Linked DNA regions of Homo sapiens: region 1 is linked to region 2. The links come from fine-mapping of genetic effects on gene expression. A gene starts in region 2. The other region holds a variant in brackets. All regions are shown on one strand. Distances are from middle to middle.

Region 1 (9,763 bases), 57 kb before region 2:
GAATTTCATCAACATTATATTAAGATAATCGCATACTATTGCACATCAGGTTTTAGGATTATTTGTAGTTATCTATTTTCTACCTTTTACTGGACTAAATTATAATTAGTCTCTAAAATGCTTTATTGTACTTTGTCTAGAGTATTTTCCTCAATCCCATTTTGTCTGCAGAAAAGAATATTCAGAAAATTTCAAAGAACAGAACAGTAATGCCCTCATGGCATGGAAAGCACATGAGATTGCCCTAAAATACACAAATTCATTTCAAGTCATACACAAATGCACATACATATGTATGTATATGTTCATATATATATAATTTCAAATTCATGTATATGACAAAATTTTCAATTTAATAAATATGTATACACAAAAAATGAAATTAGAAATATTAGAAATATTTGACTAAAAGTCCAGATTCCTCACAAAATAACACAATTCAGTGTGTATCACTCTTTAAAATATGAAACTATGTATACTACTTCAAAATTATCAGAACTTTTCTGCATATGAATCCTGTAGTGGTACTAAAATTGCAACATAATCCTTTCAAATAACAGTGGCTGTTCCATCTGAACTCTAACCTTCTCAGGCTAAGATCAAAACCTGAGCTTAATTCAACTCCTTTCTTAAATCAAACTATGTGCCCAAACAAGGCAAAGCAAAAATACACAATAGTTTGAAAACTACATATTAGTGAAGCACTCATATTGGTTGATTTTTAAAGATATTTTACTAGAAAATAATGTTAAACCACTGAAAATAAAGGCATCTCAAAATGTAACCACTGGAGCTAGGTATAATTTTAACATTATAACCAACTGTAATAATTTGGCTTAAAAATCAAGACTCAGAGTACATAATGTTCTTCTTAAACACTTCTACATTGTATTCAAGTCAGTATTGACTTTGAAAATTTTTGTGACTTCAGATTTTGTATAGTTGTTTTTCTTAGACTTTTCCTATCTTCTACATTTTGTTATGGAATAATTCAGAGCAATAGTCCAGGTTATTCTTGATGTGAGAAATAGTGACAAATAGCACAACTCTAAAAGCTGACAGTATCTGTGAAGATAAGCAGCCAGCAGCATTTTATCTTGGTGTTGGAACAGAGGCGAGGGTGTGAGAATATGGAAATTAACTTCCAATTTTGAGCCACCTCTATTGCCTTTGAAGAGATCCTTCTCCTCATTACTACCCCATACCTACCCAGTTTTCACAATATTCTTTTTTTTTAAGAGCAACCCTTGTTGATACATTTCTCTCATGTATACTATTGTATTTATAAGCTTATGATCTGATTAACACAGAAAATAAATGGATCAACAGCAAAATAATTGATAAATTGATAAACTCTTGGTGACTCCACATTGTTTTAATTGCAGACAAAGACATTAAGAAACTATAAAATTATAACATCAACATCTTTTCAAAAACAGCGGTTTGCTGAACACCCATCAAGTCAGAATATTTACTGGTATTTGATTTACAGGTGAAACAGAGGACAGCAGTAAAATGTGATCCAGACCAGGACAGATGTTTGTTGGTGCAATCCCAACTGTAGGTGTCACTAATATTCAAATAGTAGATTAGTGGCTTATACCAGACTCACAGATAGTATTTTTTATAGTTTTGGGCATGTTCATTTGACCATCAATTCATTACCATGTCCTCTAGTTGACAGTTCTCCAACCTGTTGCCCATCAAAATCAATTTTTGAAATGTCTTACAAGCACAGTTGTAAGTACAGTCTAATTCAGATCTACTTAATCAGAATCTTTGGGAAGAAAATGTAAAATTTTTCCCTCCTTCCTTCCCTTCATCCCTTTTTCCCTCCATCTTCTTTCCCCCGTTTTTCTCCCTCCCTCCAGGCATATTATATGACAAAAAAATTAATACTAGATAAAAGAGAGAAATAATGAAAATAAATAAATCAGTATTAAAAATATTTACTTAATAGAACAAAAGTAAATATTTGAATAATTTTTTGAATGAAAAATATGACTTATCAGCTCATATAAAAGTTGTACCAAACTGTTCAAAACCAGATATAATACCAAAGAAGATAACTCCATGTTTTTGTTTTTGCTTTTTTGAGACAAGGTCTTACTCTGTTGCCCACGCTGGAGTACAGTGGTGTGATCACAACTCATTGCAGCCTCGACCTCCGGGGCTCGAATGATCCTCCTGCCTCAGCCTCCTAAGTAGCTGGCACTACAGGCACACGCCACCATGCCTGCCTATTTTTTTCTATTTTTTGTAGAGACAGAGGTTTGCCATGTTGCCCAGGTTGGTCTCAAACTCCTGGACTCAAGCGATCCCGCCTCACCCTCCCAAATTGCTGGGATTACAGGTATAAGCCCCCACAACTGGCCAACAACAGCATTTTAGGCCTTTTAAAATAAGTATTTATTTCAAGGGTGAGAGGTTCCCACTATCATGTTTCTATGGCATTTTATTGAAACTTCTGAAGGTCCAATATGATTGGTTTAGTTGCCTACTTATATACATCTGTAATATGAATTTCTTAAAGGAAATTTAATAGTACTGAGTTTGTCTCTAATTTGGCCCAATTTTTCCTGCTCCTTCCTTGCTTCCACTGCCTAACACACATTTTCCCATCTGTAATTTGTCAGGGTTCTCCAGAGGAACAGAACCAATAGGATATATGTATATATAAAAGGGAGTTTATTAGGAAGAATTGGCTCACATGATTACAAAGTGAAATCCCACAATAGGCATTCTGCAAGCTGAAGAAGAGAGAAGTTGGTAGTGGCTCAGTCCAAGTCCAAAAGCCCCAAAACCGGGAATCCAACAGTACAGCCTTCAGTCTGTGGCAGAAGGCCTGAGAGCCCTGGGGAAGCTGCTGGTACAAGTTTCAGAGCCCAAAGACCAAAGAAATTGGAGTATGATGTCCAAGGGCAGGAAGAGCAGAAGCAAGCAACCAGCATGGAAAGAAAAAAGAGAGCTGCCTGCCTTGTCCTAGCTGGCCGGCAGCCAATTAGATGGTGCCCACCCACATTTAGTGTGAGTCTTCCTCTCCCAGTCCACTGACTGAAATGTCAGTCTCTTCTGGAAACACACTCAGACACACAGAGAAACAATACTTTACCAGCCATCTAGGCATCCCACAATCCAATCACGTTGGCACCTAATATTAACCATCATGCTATCTCATTCATCTCTTAAATTCCCTTTCTTCCTTCTAAATTAAGCTTGTACATTCAGTAAATAATTATTGAATGCCTATTTAGTGCCAAGAGTTGTGATTCCATAGAAAATACAAAATGGAATTAAGCTTTGTTTCTTCATCAAAGATATTACTGTCCTGCTGTTGGGAGTGATAGGTAAATAAATAATTACAGAAAGGTATAACGAAGATATGCCTGGAACCGATCCCCAATGAATATCAAGGGACAACTGTATATCATTACTATTTAGGCTTTAATGTGTCTACTTGACTGTGCTGAACTACATTTTCCAGCATTCCCTTAATTGTATGTTAGGGTGGACCACAAGGGAGACATTTGGCAGATCTGAAGAGCAGATAGGAAGCAACAACTTTTATTGCTAACACTTGTTGTTGCTGATCTTTGAAATGCAGCTAAAGCAGTATTGGGAGGAAAGTTTACAGTGCTAAAATCCTACATCAAGAAGTTAGAAAGATCTCAAATTAACAATTTAACAGTGTACTTAGAGGAACTAGAAAGAAAAGAATAAGCCAACCCCAAAGCTAGCAAAAGAAAGAAATTAACTAAAGTCAGAGCACTGAATGAAATTGAGATGCAAAAACTTATACAAAAGATTAATGAAACCAAAAGTCTGTTCTTTTATAGATGAAACAAGATTGATAGACCACTAGCTAGATTAACAAGAAAGAAGATCCAAATAAGCACAATCAGAAATGACAAAGATGTCATTACAGCTGATCCCACAGAAATACGAAGGATCCTCAGAGATTATTACGAACACCTCTGAGCACACAAATTAGAAAACCTAGAGGAAATGGATAAATTCCTGGACATGCATAACCACCCAAGATTGAACCAGGAAGAAAGTGAAAACTTGAACAGACCAATAACAAGTTCCAAAATTGAATCAGTAATTTAAAAAAACCTACGAACAAAAAAAAAGGCTTGGACCAGATAGATCCACAAATGAATTCTACCAGACATACAAAGAACTGGTACTAATTCTACTGAAACTACTGCAAAAAATCAAGGAGGATGTACTCCTCCCTAACTTATTCTATGAAGCCAGCATCATTCTGATACCAGAATCTGGCAGACACACAACAACAACAAAAAAGAAAACTTCACACCAATATCACTGGTGAACATAGACACAAAAATCCTCAACAAAGTACTAGCAAACCATGTTCAGCAGCACATCAAAAAGTTAATTTATCACAATCAAGTAGGCTTTATCCCTGGGATGCAGGATCGGTTTAACATATGCAAATCAATAAATGTGATTCACTCCATAAACGGAATTAAAATAAAAAACCATATGATCATCTCAAAAATGCAAAAAAAGCTTTTGATAAACTCCAACATCTTTTCATGATTAAAAACTCTCAACAAATTAGGCATCAAAGGAACATACCTCAAAATAACAAGAGCCATCTATGACGAACCCACAGCCAACATCAGACTGAATGGGCAAAAGCTGAACCATTCTCTTTGAGAAATGGAACAAGACAAAGATGTCCACTCTCACCACTCCAATTCAACATAGTACTGGAAGTCCTAGCCAGAGCAATCAGAAAACAGAAATAAAAGAAATACCCTTCTTGATATCAGCGATGGCTAATAATTTATGGCTAAGTCCTCAAAAGCAATTGCAACTAAAACAAAAATTGATTAGTGGAACCTAATTAAAGTAAAACACTCCTGCACAGCAAGAGAAACTGTAAGGAAGTAAACAGACAACCTGCAGAATGAAAGAATATACTTGCAATCTATGCATCCAACAAAAGCCTAATATCCAGAATATATAATAAACTTAAAGAAATCAACAAGTAAAAGATGAATAACCCCATTAAAAATTGGACAAAGGACATAAACAGATATTTCTCAAAAGACAACATACAAGCAGCCAACAAACATGTGAAAAAGTGCTAATCAACTCATTATCGGAGAAATACAAGTCAAAACCATAATGAGACACCAGATCACACCTGTCCAAAAGGCTTTTGTTGAAAAGTCAAAAAATAACTGATGTTGGTGAGGTTACAGAGAAAAAGGACACTCAGACACTGTTGGTGAAGATGTAAATTAGCCCAGCCACTATGCATTACAGAGAGTAGTTTGAATACTTCTCAAAGACCTAAGAGTTTAACTATCATTTGACGCAGCAATTTCATTAATGGGTATATACCCAAAGGAAA[A/C]TAAATTAGTCTATCAAAGGACACATTCACCTGTATGTTCTTTGCAGCACTATTTACAATAGCAAAAACATGGAATCAACCCAGGTGCCTATCAACAGCAGTTTGGTAAAGAAAATGTGTACATATACACCATGGAATACTATGCAGCCATAAAAAATGAAATCATGTCATTTGCTGCAACATGGTTGCAGCTGGAGGCCATTATTTTAAGCAAACTAATGCAGAAACAGAAAACTAAATACTGCATATTCTAACTTATAAGCAGGGCTAGACATTGAATAAATGCTGACATAAAGATGGGAAAAACAGACACTGAGGACTACTAGAATGGGGAGAGGGGAAGGGAGTAAGAGCTAAAAAACTACCCATTGGATACTATGCCCATTACCTTAGTGAAGGGTTCAGTCATACCCCAAAACTCAGTGTCATGTAATACACGTTTTTAATAAACTTGCACATGTATTCCCTGATTCTAATATAAAAGTTGAAAAAGAAAAAAACATAAAAAAAGAATAGCATAATATTTGCATATAACCTACACACGTTCTCCCATATACTTTAAATCATCTCTAGATTAGTTATAATATCTAATGCATTGCAAATGCTACATAGTTCGCTATACTGTTGTATTATTTAGAAAATCGTGACAAATGGAAGAAGTCTGTATATGTTCAATACTGATGCAACCACTCATTTTTTAAAAAATACTTTTGATCAATGGTTGATGAAATCCATAGATGCAGAACCCATGGGTACAAGAACTGACTGTGTTGTTCACCTACCAGGCTACTTTAGAAGAAAGTATGCTACCTGTTTTCTCACATTTAATAATTTCACTGTATTTGGCAGACAATATCTACATTCAATGCTGGGTATTGCATTTTAAGAAGGTCATGGAGGAAATGAAATGTGATCTGAGGGTGCATTCATAATAGTCATATGAGGAAGATTCTGGTGACCCATGAGATTTTTAAAAAGTTCACATGTGGAAGATGTAATAGGCTTATTTGGCTTACTGCAGAGGATCAACAGTTAAAATGTCATGGAAAGGTAATTTTTTTTCTTTCATTTAAAGTCTAAAAACTCGTCTTAAATGCAAGCTCTACACAAACAGGGAATAGTGTATTTGTGTGTGTGTGTGTGTGTATGGTGTGTATTTTTAAAATTTCCAATGCTCAGTACATATCCACATATGTTGAAGTGATCAAAAATGTTTGTTGGATTAATCAATTAATTGATGGACAACTGAGACAGTTTCCTTGAAAAAAATAAAATTGAAGTAGTTAACTGTGAAATGGGCTATCCATATATTCCATAACTCCATTTTGTTACAGCATAAATGTGCCATCTCTTTATAAGCATATATTCTTGTAAAAAAGATGATGAGAAAATTTTAAAACATAAGCAATCTGCATAAAAGATTCAGAATATCTCAGATCTCTGAGAATTTACATTTTAATAAAATCATGAAAATAGCACAATGGCTAAAAATATTTTATTATTTCTCAGGCAATCTGAATTTGTCGAATTATAAAACTAGATGGAGGGTAAAAAATTATCTTAATTTTATTTTGTAGTAGTGTTTATTATTCCTGAATGATATAATTGACCAAAATATGATTTCATTTCTCATTTACTTTTATTGGCTTAGTAGTAACTCATTCTACATCAAAGACAAAAACATTGAGGATACAAAATAGTGGCTACTTAGGAATGTTTTTGGTTTCACATGTTTTTGGTTTCACATTTAGGTACCTAGCATCTTTTGAGCAACCCACTTGTATGCATATATACAACCAATGTTTGCATCACAGGTCGCCTGCACCCCTAGCAGCAACCTACAAATGCAGTGAGAATACCTATCAATTCTCCTAAAACAAAACAAAACATCCTGCCTTTTACTCATAATCCAAGGTCCCTTCTGCCCAATGCCCCAAATATGAAGTATTTTATTACAGTACGTGAGATGATTTTCTATTCAAAATACTTCCTGAACAGTAATAGATTTTCAAAATAAATTAGTAACATTCCATGTATTTGTAAGCATAACAATGTGAATTTAATGTTGTATATAAAAACAAAACTATCCTTCTAGAGCTTTCTGTATCCCTCATTTCAAACTGTTGTATTTTTCTTAGTTTTTTGAAATTTGGTTGCAGAAAATTGAGTTAGTTATACTCTGAAGAGTATCATCAGCACAATCAAGACCCTTTGCTGGTTGATATTGACTTTCCCCTTTCATCCCTGATCCCTGTACCCATCACTTTTCTCACCTCTTAGATTCATTTACAGCAAGTCCTTGAACAACATCATTTAATTCAATGTCACTTTGTAATAACCGTAATAAGAAAACAAATGGATTCCCACACAAGACCACTCTCCATGCAGAATTTGCATGTTCTCTCCATGTTTGCATGGATTTTCTCCAGATATTCCAGTTTCCTCCCACGTCCCAAAGATGTGCATGTTCTGTTAATTGGTATGTCGAAGTTGTTCCAGGATGGGCTGGCGTGGGTGTGTATGTGAGTGTGCCCTGTGATAGAATAGCATCCTGTCCAGGGTTGGATCCTGCCAGGATAGACTCTGGCCACCCATGCCCTGAATTGGAATATGCAAGTTAGAAAATAAATGAATGAATGAATGAATGAATACAAATTATTTTAAAATAAAAATTAGTAAACTATACAATAATCCTACAAATGCTCGACAATAAACAGTGAGGTACAAAAGCCCTCATGGAGCCATATTTGTGATTGTTTTTGAGCTGCATAGTGGTAGGACGTCCTGATTAAAACTTTCACTTTGCAACATTTATTCTTTGATTTAACCCATGACCGCTATGACTGCTGTAACTCACTGATTCACCAAAAATTAAGTAAATAATTACTTTACTTGTTTCTATTCATCTTTCTTATACGTATGTATAGCTCACATTTATTTCAATGTTTAATATAAGAAGTGTTTGGGGCCTTTATTTAGAAATTTGGTGATGTTTTTGTGTCCAGAAATATGCCAGAAATAGCAACTTAACTCCTGTTTATATCAATTAGCTTATGGTAAAATTGGTTCCAATATTCATCATTTTGCCTAAAGTCACAGTTTCCAAGAAGTTACCGACAACAGTAAGTGAGGACTTACTGGATATCCCCGCAAATTGTATTGAATTTTGGGAATGTCAGTGTTTTAAACTTTTTCCTTTGCCCTCTTCTTCCCCCCTGGATTTTCTGTCTTTTCCATGTTGATTTTCATGGATTCTTTCCCTAATCTAGATGTCAATCTAGAATATTTATTTATTTTATACATTGTAAATATCTTTTCTGAATTAGTCAACAACTGTTTAACTTTGTCTCTATTTCTTCATTAAAATAAACCTTTAATTGTAATGTAATCAAATCCATAATTTCTTTTTTTCTCCCTCCTTCCTCCCTCCCTCCCTCCCTCCCTCCCTCCCTTCCTTCCTTCTTTCCTTTATAGTTTATCCTCCTAGGGTCATACTCAACATGATTTTCCACTACCTCCAGGTAACACTTATATTCTCATGATTTTTTTTCCTTCTTAATAATTCTACTTTTCACTAATTTAATGTGTGGCATATGGCCTTAACTTATTTTTTCAATATTCTGATGCTATCTACCAAACTGTGTTTCCCCAAATCATTTATAGTTCAACTTTATTATAAATCAAATTAACACACATGTTTATAACTGCATGTTTGTGTCTATTTCTGAGCTCTCTGTTATGTCATCTTTCTTTCATCTGTGATGAATACCACACTGGTTTCATTATTATTATTATCATGACTTTGTACTTATATTGTGTCTAGCAAGATGTGTCCCCATTCCTTGCTTTTCTTTCTTTCTTTTTTATTTTTTTTTTGATGGAGTCTCACTCTGTCACCCAGGGCGGAGTGCAATGGTGCAATCTCGACTCACTGCAACCTCCCCCTCCCAGGTTCAAGCAATTCTCCTGCCTCAGCCTCCCAAGTAGCTGGGATTACAGGTGCGTGCCACTATGCCCAGATAATTTTTGTATTTTTAGTAGAGACGGGGTTTCACCATGTTAGTCAGGCTGGTCTCAAACTCCTGACCTCAGGTAATCCGCCCACCTCAGCCTTCCAAAGTGCTGGGATTACAGGCGTGAGCCACCACACCTGGCTGCTTTTCTTTAAATAAAAGTAACTAAACTATTCATAGACCTTTATTCTTCCATGTATATTTTTGAATACAGTGGCTAATTTCTTTAAAAAAAAAAAGGAAGTCTGAATTTTGTTTGAAAATAAGATGGCATCTTCTTGAAAATTGTGGCCATGCATATTTTAGATCCTTATCTGTGTGGTCCATTAATTCTGCTGACTAGGTTTTAGTTTATTGCCTT
Region 2 (9,763 bases):
TTTCACTTCATCTCATCATTTCATCATCTCATGATTTCATTTCATCTCATCATTCATCTCATTTCATCTTTTCATCTCGTCATTTCATTTCATCATTTCATTTCATCTTTTCATCTCGTCATTTCATTTCATCTTTTCATCTCGTCATTTCATTTGATCATTTCATCAATTCATCATTTCATCATTTCATTTCATTATTTCATCATTTAATCATTTCACTTCATTTCATCATTTCATATCATTTCTTCATTTCACCATTTGATCTTTTCATTTCATTTCATCATTTCATCATTTCACTTCATCATTTCATCATTCCATTTCATTTCCTCATTTCATTTCACAATTTCATCATTTCATTTCATCATTCCATTTCATCATTTCACTTCATCTCATCATATCATCTTTCATTGCATTATTTCATTTCATCTCATCATTTCATTTCATCATTTCACTTCATCTCATCATTTCATTTCATCTCATAATTTCATTTCATCTTTTCATCTCATTTCATTTAATTATTTCGTTTCATTTCACCTTTTCATCTCATCGTTTCATTTCATCAATTCATCATTTAATTTCATTTTTTCATCATTTCATCATTCACTTCATTTCATCATTTCATCATTTCATATCATTTCCTCATCATTTCATCTTTTCATTTCATCATTTCATCATTTCATTTCACTTCATTATTTCATTTCACTTCATTATTTCATTTCATTTCATTTCACCATTTCATGTCATCACTTCATCATTTCATTTCATCATTCCATTTCATCATTTCATTTCATTTCATCATCATTTCATCTCATTATTTCATTTCTTCATTTCATCATTTCGTTTCATTTCATCATTTCATTTCATCATTTCATCATTTCTTTTCATTTCAGTGATACATGTATTTAATTGCTAATGCGATGCCCAGGAGACACCCTATTTCCCTTTGTAAAACACCTCCTTCAACAAAAGGCAACTTCTCATGGCTGGCTAAGTCTACAGGGATACCAGCCTCTCTTCAACCACCCAATTTCATTTAGAACCTCAAACAGCACCTCAGTTTCATAAAAACCTAAAACATAAACACAACACTTGGTTGTAAGTGAGCCGACAGTTTCTTGTCTCTTTCTCTGCTCAAGGCTTAAGGCCGTGTCTCCCCAACTACATTCAGTGGAAGAAAAGATCCCATGGACAAATAAGTTTGAGAATTGTTGTTGCAGGAATTCTCAGAACTTTCAAAACACAAATCCTCATCCGCAGGGATCTTCAGGAGGGAGATGGCTGATGCAGCACAACTTTCTTTCACAGGAGTATCTTGCAGAATACAGTATGAGATACAGAAAGGCTGCATTGAGTCTTTTTAATGGCCCGGGCCTTGGTGGGGGTGGGGTAGGAGCTCTCCAGATAGCATCTAATGAGTAGGAACATTCAGGTGGCTTTTTTTTTTCCTTATTGGCAAAACTGTGTGTACACCATGAATGAAGCTGGTCTCCCTTATCCACGTCAAAACTAAACCCAAATTAATTGGCTAAATTGGGACTCAACACCTCCAGGAGCCACGCGGCAGAAAGCCCCAACACACTTTAAATTAGCTTACCTCATCATATTTCAGGAAAGCAAAACGCTTATGACCAGTATGCTGCTAATACAAGTCTACAGATAATGCTGTATGAAAAACTAGTTTTCCCAGTCATAGCTCGCATAGTCCACATTTTGCATTACACTTTCCCCCCCTTTTTAAAATTTTAAATACAGGTCTTTTTCTCTTCTTTTTTTCAATTTTAATTAAATTATACAAGACGGAGTCTCAGTATGTTGCCCAGGCTGGTCTTCAACTCCTGAGCTCAAGCGATACAACCATCTCCGCCTCCCAAAGTGCTGAGATTGCAGGCCTGAGACACTGTGCCTGGCCTTAAACACAAATCTTAATTCATTCTTACAATTATTCCGAGGTTACAAAAATGGAAGGGGAAGAAAAATGGCAAGTAGGTAGGCTGACTTCGGCTTCATTATTTGGAAGGACAGTTTGCTCGGTTAAAACACACTACTGCCTACAAAGGCCAAGACAACAGAAAAATACAGACTTACATAAATAGATTTTATATGTGACAGCAGTTTGAATGGAGACTTTTTCAATGCAATGAGAAACAGCTGTGCTTGGGAATAAATGACAACGAATTTTTTTTATCTCAACAGCTGTCCTGAGAGCATGTCTCTACATCTCTACCTGCATTCTGGATTCAGGGAGAAAGCCAAAACGGACGACAAGACACTAGATCAGCCGTGTCCAGCCCTTTGACTACAAGGACTTTTCCACCTATCTGTGGTGGTGGGTAGCATGAAAATTATGCACAAACCTTTTTTTTTTTTAACCCCATCAGCTGTTGTTAGCATTAGTGTATTTTATGTGCGGCCCAGGAGCATTCTTCTTCCAATGTGGCCCTGAGAAGCCAAAAGACTGGACACCTGTGCACTAGATCAAAAGGCTACTCCTTCTGGAAGCAATTGTAAAGAATTTCTGACATTATCTTGACATGAAAACCAATGGGTAGTGGGACAGAATGCAAAATCTTGAAGAATTTTTCTTGTCTTTTTTTTTTTTTTTTTTTTTTGAGTCACGGTCTTGCTCTGTGGCCCAGGCTGGAGTACACTGGTGAGATCAGAGCTCAGTGCAGGATCAAGTGCTCCTCCCGCCTCAGCCACAGTAGTAGCTGGGACTACAGATGCGCACAACCACCCCTGGCTAATATTTTATTTTTTGTAGAGATGGGGTCTCACTATATTGTCCAGGTTGGTCTCAAACTCCTTGACTCAAGGGATCCAGGAAAGGATAACAGGTGGGAGCCACCACACCTGGCTATGTGCATGAACTTTTAAGACAAACACAAGGCCCCACAAAAGTTAAGGTTTTTCCCACCTAATTTCCAGGGGGATCTTTTGGTGCAAGGCTGAGAAGCCCTTAAAAGTACACAGACAACTCCAAAGATTCAAGACAGTTCATTCGGGCTGAGCCAGCCCACTGGGCAGACTGACCTTCCAAAAAGACCCACCCATGACATACACCAGATGGCTCTCCAAGAATCTCTTCAGTCCTCAGGGTCCCTAACGTACTGGACAGAGCTAGGAAAGCAAACCCATTTGCTTCTTCCTGCAGGAAACCCCTTGAGGTTAAGACCCCACAATCACATGAGGATGGAGTGGCTCACCCTCAGTCAACAGGCCAGACTCAAGGTGGTATAATGTCTTAACCGCGGGTGCGGGCCTCCAGGTCTGACTCCCAACTCAGTTCTTCTTTAATAACCACACTTTGTTAATTTTCCTTAACAGGGGTTCCTGGCAAGTCATTTCTCCCTCGGGCCTTCGGTTTCCTCACCTACAAGATGAGAGGGCTGGACCAGATGGAAATTCAGGGGGTAAGGGGATGTCCTCACGCAGCCCACCCCCACCCCCACGGGACCCTGGAGCCTCCATCCCAGTTCCCACCACGCACCCGCTCCACAAATCCTGCCCAAGGTGAGGGCTGGTCCTGGGTCCTCTGGCTGCCGCATCAGCGAGTGCAGGAGGGAGGGGAAGCCTCCAAGGGGGTGACGTGGGCTCAAAGATGCAACTCGGCCAGGAGTGAACTGGGGCCCCCGAAGGAGGTGTCCGGGCCGCTCCTGGAGCCCAGCCCGGGTCCCCGAACCCCTTACCTCCAGGGTCTGTATCTCCTGCTGGGTGAGGTCGTTAGACACAGCGCACTTGGTGCACAGCCCGCACAGGCTGCCAATGAAGATGACGATGAGCTTCTGGAGCTGCCCGCACTGCTGCAGCGCCCGGCTGGCCGCAGCCCCTGTGCCACCCTCCGTGGCCGCCGCATCACCCCCACCACCGCCCTCCTTCTTCTCTCCCACCGCCTCCACAGGCAGCGCCACTCTATGCAGGCCACAGGGGCCTAGGCAAGGAGCCCGGGGCGCCGGCGCCTAGGCAAAGAATCCCTGAGCCAGGAGAGCTGGACCAGGAGCACCCCTCGGCGCTGCCCTTGCCAGGACGCCAGTAGAGCTGGCAGCCGAGTCTGCCGCTCCTGCCCTCAGAGCCGTGGCGGCGGGGACAAAAATCCTCGGTGGCGGGGGCAAAAAGTCGCGGTGACAAAAAGCGGCGGCGACCGGGGCAAAAAGTCGCGGCAGCAAAAAGCCGCGGCGGCGGGGGCAAAAAGCGGCGGCGACAGCGGCAAAAAGCCGTGGCGGCGGGGGCAAAACGCCGCGGCGGCGAAAAAGTCGCTGCGGCAGGGGGGCAAAAAGCCGTGACAGCGGGGCGCAAAAAGCCGTGGCGGGTAAAAGGCCGTGGCGAGTAAAAAGCCGCGATGGCAAAAAGCTGCGGCGGGCAAAAAGCCACGGCGGCGGTGGGGCAAAAAGCAGCGGCGGTGGCGGAGGGGCAAAAAGCCGCGGCAGCGAGGGGGCAGAAAGCCGCGGCGGCAAAAAGCCAAGGCGACGAGTGTGCAAAAAGCTGTGTCGGTGGTGGGGCAAAAAGCCGCGGCGGTCAAAAAGCCGAGGCAAGGTGGGGGCAAAAAGCCGCGGCGGCGGAGGGGCAAAAAGCCGCGGCGGCGGGTGTGTGGCAGAAAGCCGCGGCGGGCAAAAAGCCGCGGCGGCGAGGGGGGCACAAATCCGCGGCGGGCAAAAAGCCGCGGCGGCGGGGGGTAAAAAGCCGCGGCGGGCAAGAAGCCGAGGCGGGGTGGGGGCAAAAAGTCGCGGCGGCGGGGGGCAAAAAGTCGCGGCGGCAGGGGACAAAAAGCCGCGGCGGGTAAAAAGCCGTGGGGGCAGGGGGGAAAAAGCCACGGCGAGGAAAAAGCCGCGGCGGCGGGGGGGGCAAAAAGCGGCGGGGTGCAAAAAGCGGCGGGGTGCAAAAAGCGGCGGGGGACAAAAAGCCGCGGCGGCAAAATTCGCAGCGGCAAGGGGTCAAAAAGCCGCGGCGGGCTAAAAGCCCTGGCGCCGGGGGGGCACAAAGCAGCGGCGGGCAAAAAGCCGAGGCGGGGTGGGGGGAATAAGCCGCGGCGGCGGGGGGGCAAAAAGCCGTGGCGGCGGCGGTGGAGGGCGAAATAATGGAGATGGAGTGGAAGGCCGGCACAGCTTGGCATTGCTGGAGTGCGATGTGATAGGAAATGAGCAGCCAAAGACAAAAAGATGTAAGTAGGCTTGACTCATTGAAGCTAAGAACCCAGATGTTATCTTGAGGGTATTAACTAATAAGCAGTTTAAATCAGAATGACACATTCTGATTTGTTTCTTGTACGTTCACATTTGGCAGGCATAGATACTGTTTGAAGAGAGAAAAGTCAGTAGAGAGAGGTAACAAACTTAAATATGTGCCAAGTCTAGAAACAAGAGACCAGGGGGATAGGGACCTTTCAAAATAAAATGCAAGATTTGAAAACTGATTGGCTGGGGGATGAGGAAAAGGCAGGTCTTTAAGGTCCATCCCTGTTTTGCTTTAAGTTGTTAGGGGGTGGTTTTATCACATGTTGTAGAATATGTCATTTCAGTTTTGAACATCTTGAGTTAAATTGTCCTAGCATATCTTATGAATTTGATTTTCTTCCCTGGGAAGCTAATATTTCAAACACTTAAAGAGTATATAGATTTCCAACTTGTATCCAGTTTATAAAACTATCTCTAGGCTGCTGATTTCAGGAGGAGGCTTATGAGTATTCTCCTTGCAGAGAATATATCAGGAGTTAACAGCAGCTTCAATATTTGTGGATGACCAGTTAACTAAGCCACCTCTTAGTGTCTTTAGTTGGGAAATCTTAGCTGAAGATATTCAATAATGAACCAAGAGTGACTAAGAAATTCAATATTTAAGTATATTTCATTGTAATTAATTTGAATTGAAGTAGCCATATACAGCTAGTATTTACTATATTGAACAATGCAAATAAGAGGAAAAAATTAATAACCATCTCTAATACCACATGCCAAAATCCTCATCAATTTATTCTAGCTAAAGGAGTTGATCAGAAGCAGTAGTTGAAAGCACCAACTAAACCAGCTGGGGTTAGTTCACTGTCATTCTCTCAGAACCATCTCTCCTCTGAACAAAACAAGTACAAGAGTTCATTGTGAATCTGCATTCTCCTTGCCTATTTTAAGGTTTTGATGTTGACGCAAATTTGTGAAATCCCTCCTGTGGTGTGATATTTCGTTTTCCTTGCTTTGTGTTAGGACAAGAATGCTTCAGCTCTTAATTTAAAATTATGTTTCTCCCTCCTAGGTTGAGTGAACTTAGAATGCATTCTCTGACATATCCAAGATTTTGTTAATATGAATTTCGGGAAAAAAGCATACTTAATTAGCTAAGACGTCTTATTCTAAGCTTGACCCTATGTTCGACATCTTTTGAATTTCTAGTTGCATGGGCTGCTCTCTGACACTGGTTAGTGACCTGGAAGCTCTATTAATGTTAGGGGAGGTGGTGTATGAGCATTAGAGGTATCCTTGCAAGGAAAGACTTGTCTTATCTCAATACGTCTTTTTTTTTTGCACAGAAGAAAGTCAATGTCTGAGTCTTCTAAAATCTTCCTATTTCCAAATTGCAGATTATGATTGATTCCTAAACAAAGACCTAATTTTTGACTCAGAGACGTGGCAAGCTAGTGAATCACCATTATAATTTAACAATCTTCAAGATAAAATTATCTCTGATATTTAGATTTTGCCCAATTATTAAGATATTTGGGTGTTTAGTTAAGAATGGAAAACTCTAGTCTCTTGAGCAGAGACTATAAAGGCCTCAGATGATCATTTTTAATTTTATGCTCTTTTCTTTAACACCTTCAACACAGTTGGAAGCAGCCGATATTCCCCAGAGTTGTTGTGTTTTTTAAACCAAATGCATGGTTCAGTGGTAGAAAACTGGGCTGATCCAAGCTGTTTTCAGTAAACACTTCATTTCAGGTGACCCATTTCATATTAAATAATCTCTAGATCCTGTCTTCGAAACTAACTAGATCAGATAAACTACCCTGGATTTTCTCTTTTTAGGGTCTGAGAGCTGCAGTCACTTTTGTGAAAATGATTACAATGACAAGATAGAGTTGTAGATGGGGAAAATGTTTTGACTAATTTAAGCATAGTGGTATTTCATATGAGAATTTAAGTTACACACATTTGAAAATTATAATGGAGTCTCTTGGCTGAGCTTTAAAAAGAAATAGCGTTTAGGCTAAAAAGGGAACTGCTACCTCTCCTAAAATCAGAAAGATGTTACAGTAATTCTCCATTCTCTAGAATTATCAAGAAGCACCTTTGTGATGATTTACTTTTGCTCTTGCGAGTGTGAGCCCGTGTAGTCGTGGAACCATCAATTAGAATGGTGGCTTTCTGATCCCAAAGTCACTCATTCTGAAAACAATATTTTTCATAAATTTGAAAGTGAGAAGTTTTGATCTTGCCATTCCCAAGTAACTCTCTTAATAAGAGGCATCAGCATGCTTCAGTGACAGCTGTCACCTTCCATTGCTGAGAGTCATCTTTGAGTTCTCTATTTCACTCCCTACACTCCAATTTAGCTGCAGTTCTCTTGGCCAGTCCTATGAAATACATCCATGGCCTAACGACTTCTCACCACTACTACCACTCATGCTGACAGCATTCTCACCTAAGTCACTACCTTTTTTCGCTGGATTAGAGTAGCCTCCCAATTTATTTGCTCACATAACCTATTTATTCTACACAGTGCACCAGATACACCCCTTTGAAATGCAAACACAATCATATTATTCTCTGGTGAAATTATCTCATATATTCCTATCGCATTTAAAATTAATTCAGAATCATCCCATGATTATCAAAACCCTACATGCTCTTCCACAACATGGTTTACTTCCAAGATATCTCTTCAACATTTTTTTCACTGTACTGAATTGGTGACTAATAGTCATATTTTTGTTTTTGCTCAAAAAGTCTTGACTTGTAAATTTTTCAGTTTCTCCTTTATCCACAGGTAACTCTTTCCTGATAAGGCGAATTGCTTGCTTCCTTGAATTCTGCTCTCAAAGATACCCTTCATTTTCTACCTAATATTAATAACTTTAATCATTCATTATTCCATTACTATGCTCTATAGTGTATACAATTTCTGTTCTTTGTCATGTTATTAACTAAATTATTTATTGGGTCCAGTAACGTATTCCATAAATATTGTACACATAAAAATTGTGTTATTTTTATTCCTGTATGCTCAGCTGCCCAATAACAGTCTGAGGATTAACATATTTGTTAAATGCTCAAATACATTCTTTCACAAATATTAGTTTAATAATTTTATATTAAACTCCCTCTATACTTACAATATGAATTAGATAATTCAGAATAAACATTCCATTGGAAAAAGCTACACAATTTGTTATAAAACATCCTTAAAAGCATCAGAAAATTAATACAGCAATGAAGAATTACAGGACCAAATTAAGAATGGTATGAAAGCCTGTTTGTGACGCTTATGTTTGGGTTATCTCTTTATTTGAGTGACTATAAATCTCAAAAGAGAACTAAAGGGAGAAATAACCATATCTACTAACATGCTAAGGGTACTTAAACATCTCTTAGTAATTGAGAAAATTGAAAGAAAAGAAAAAAGAGAAAGGGAGAAAGAGAAACAGCGAAAGGGATAATGAAGGCGAGAAAGAAGAAGAGAAAGGAAGAGGAAGAAAAGTAAAAAGGAGGAGGGGGAAGGAAGAAGGAAGAAAGGTGAAAAGAAAGAATGGTAAACTTTTTAACAACATAATTTATCCTTCTAGAATATGAATGTTGGTCTATTTGATGATGTCCCACAAATTCATTAGTCTCTGCTCATTGTTTATTTTTTATTCTTTCTGTTTCTCAGAGACAGTATTTTCCATTTTCTTCTCTTCAAGTTCATGGCTTCCTCTGTGTGTGCAAATATACTCTTAAATCCCTCTGGTGATTTTTAAATTTTTATCATTGTAGTTTTCCACTCCAGAATTTGTTATCTCTTTGCTGATATTCCTACTTTTTAATATTTTTTCTGATTCCTTTATTTCTTTGTTTATGTTTTCCTTTTGACATTTGAGTATAATGAAGAGAGTTGTTTTAAAGTCTTTGTCTGGTAAGTTTGATGTCTGGGTTTCCTTAGGGATATTTTCTGTCACTTTATTTTGTTCCTTTGAATGAGCCACACTTTCCCATTCTTTGTATGCCTTGTAACGTTTTTTGAAAACTGGACATTCTAATAATTATAATTACTATGTGGTTACTCTGTAAATCAGACCTCCCCCTACAAACACAGTAATGTTTTGTGGTTTTAAATTTTCTTTACTTATTATATTGTTAAGGATTTTTTTTTTTAGTGAAATTTTCCAAAGTGATTTACAAAACTGTTTGGTTTATAAGGTGTGGTCACCGAAGTCTTTTTGTTTCCTTAACAAATGTTAAGCTAATGTTTTGACAGTGATTTTCTGGTATGTCAGGAACCAATCAAACAGGCATATACAAGAAAAACAAAAAGAAAAGCAAGTAATCATTGTCCAGCAAAATATGTCTGTAGGCCATGCAGACTGGCTTTGTGCTGGGTTCTTTAAAGCCGGCACAAAGTGTGTGTTCACTCTTGCACTGAGTGAAGTTCAAGTTCACTCTTGCACAGAGCTTGCACTGAGGGGAGGGATCGGCCAAGGTAAAAGTGTAGGGTCTTCTTATGACATTTGTCAGCATGTGGCTTAACCTATGAATACGTGTGACTTTGTAGACTCTCCCATGTACGTGAATGAGGCATGCGC

Alleles and levels. Alleles are on the strand shown, and positions count from the first base shown. SD is a standard deviation of normalised expression in the study named.
For the expression in aorta of the gene that starts at base 5,419 in region 2, allele A in region 1 goes with a lower level than allele C (large effect, 1.9 SD a copy in GTEx).

Evidence for each region. PIP is the estimated chance that this variant, and not a neighbour inherited with it, causes the effect.
Region 1: its variant is fine-mapped to the expression of LINC02798 in aorta (GTEx, PIP above 0.99). The same link has a PIP of 0.9 or more in cerebellar hemisphere, esophagus muscle, gastroesophageal junction and subcutaneous fat.

What each region holds. Positions count from the first base shown.
Region 1 is chr1:121,448,460-121,458,222 of GRCh38, reverse strand. The region is part of intron 1 of LINC02798 (long intergenic non-protein coding RNA 2798); the gene reads right to left. Among named protein-coding and RNA genes, the nearest start is that of SRGAP2-AS1, 55 kb to the right of the region's middle. The variant A/C (reference allele first, on the strand shown) is at 5,390.
Region 2 is chr1:121,391,228-121,400,990 of GRCh38, reverse strand. It overlaps LINC02798 (long intergenic non-protein coding RNA 2798), which reads right to left and starts at 5,419. Exons shown (of 2, transcript XM_047438024.1): 1 at 3,687-5,419. The coding sequence starts at 5,107. The coding sequence ends at 4,064. It overlaps SRGAP2C (SLIT-ROBO Rho GTPase activating protein 2C), which reads right to left. Exons shown (of 10, transcript NM_001329984.2): 10 at 8,117-9,763. It overlaps SRGAP2-AS1 (SRGAP2 antisense RNA 1), which reads left to right and starts at 3,086. Exons shown (of 4, transcript NR_104189.1): 1 at 3,086-3,228; 2 at 3,325-3,510. RefSeq lists a silencer at 5,048-5,342.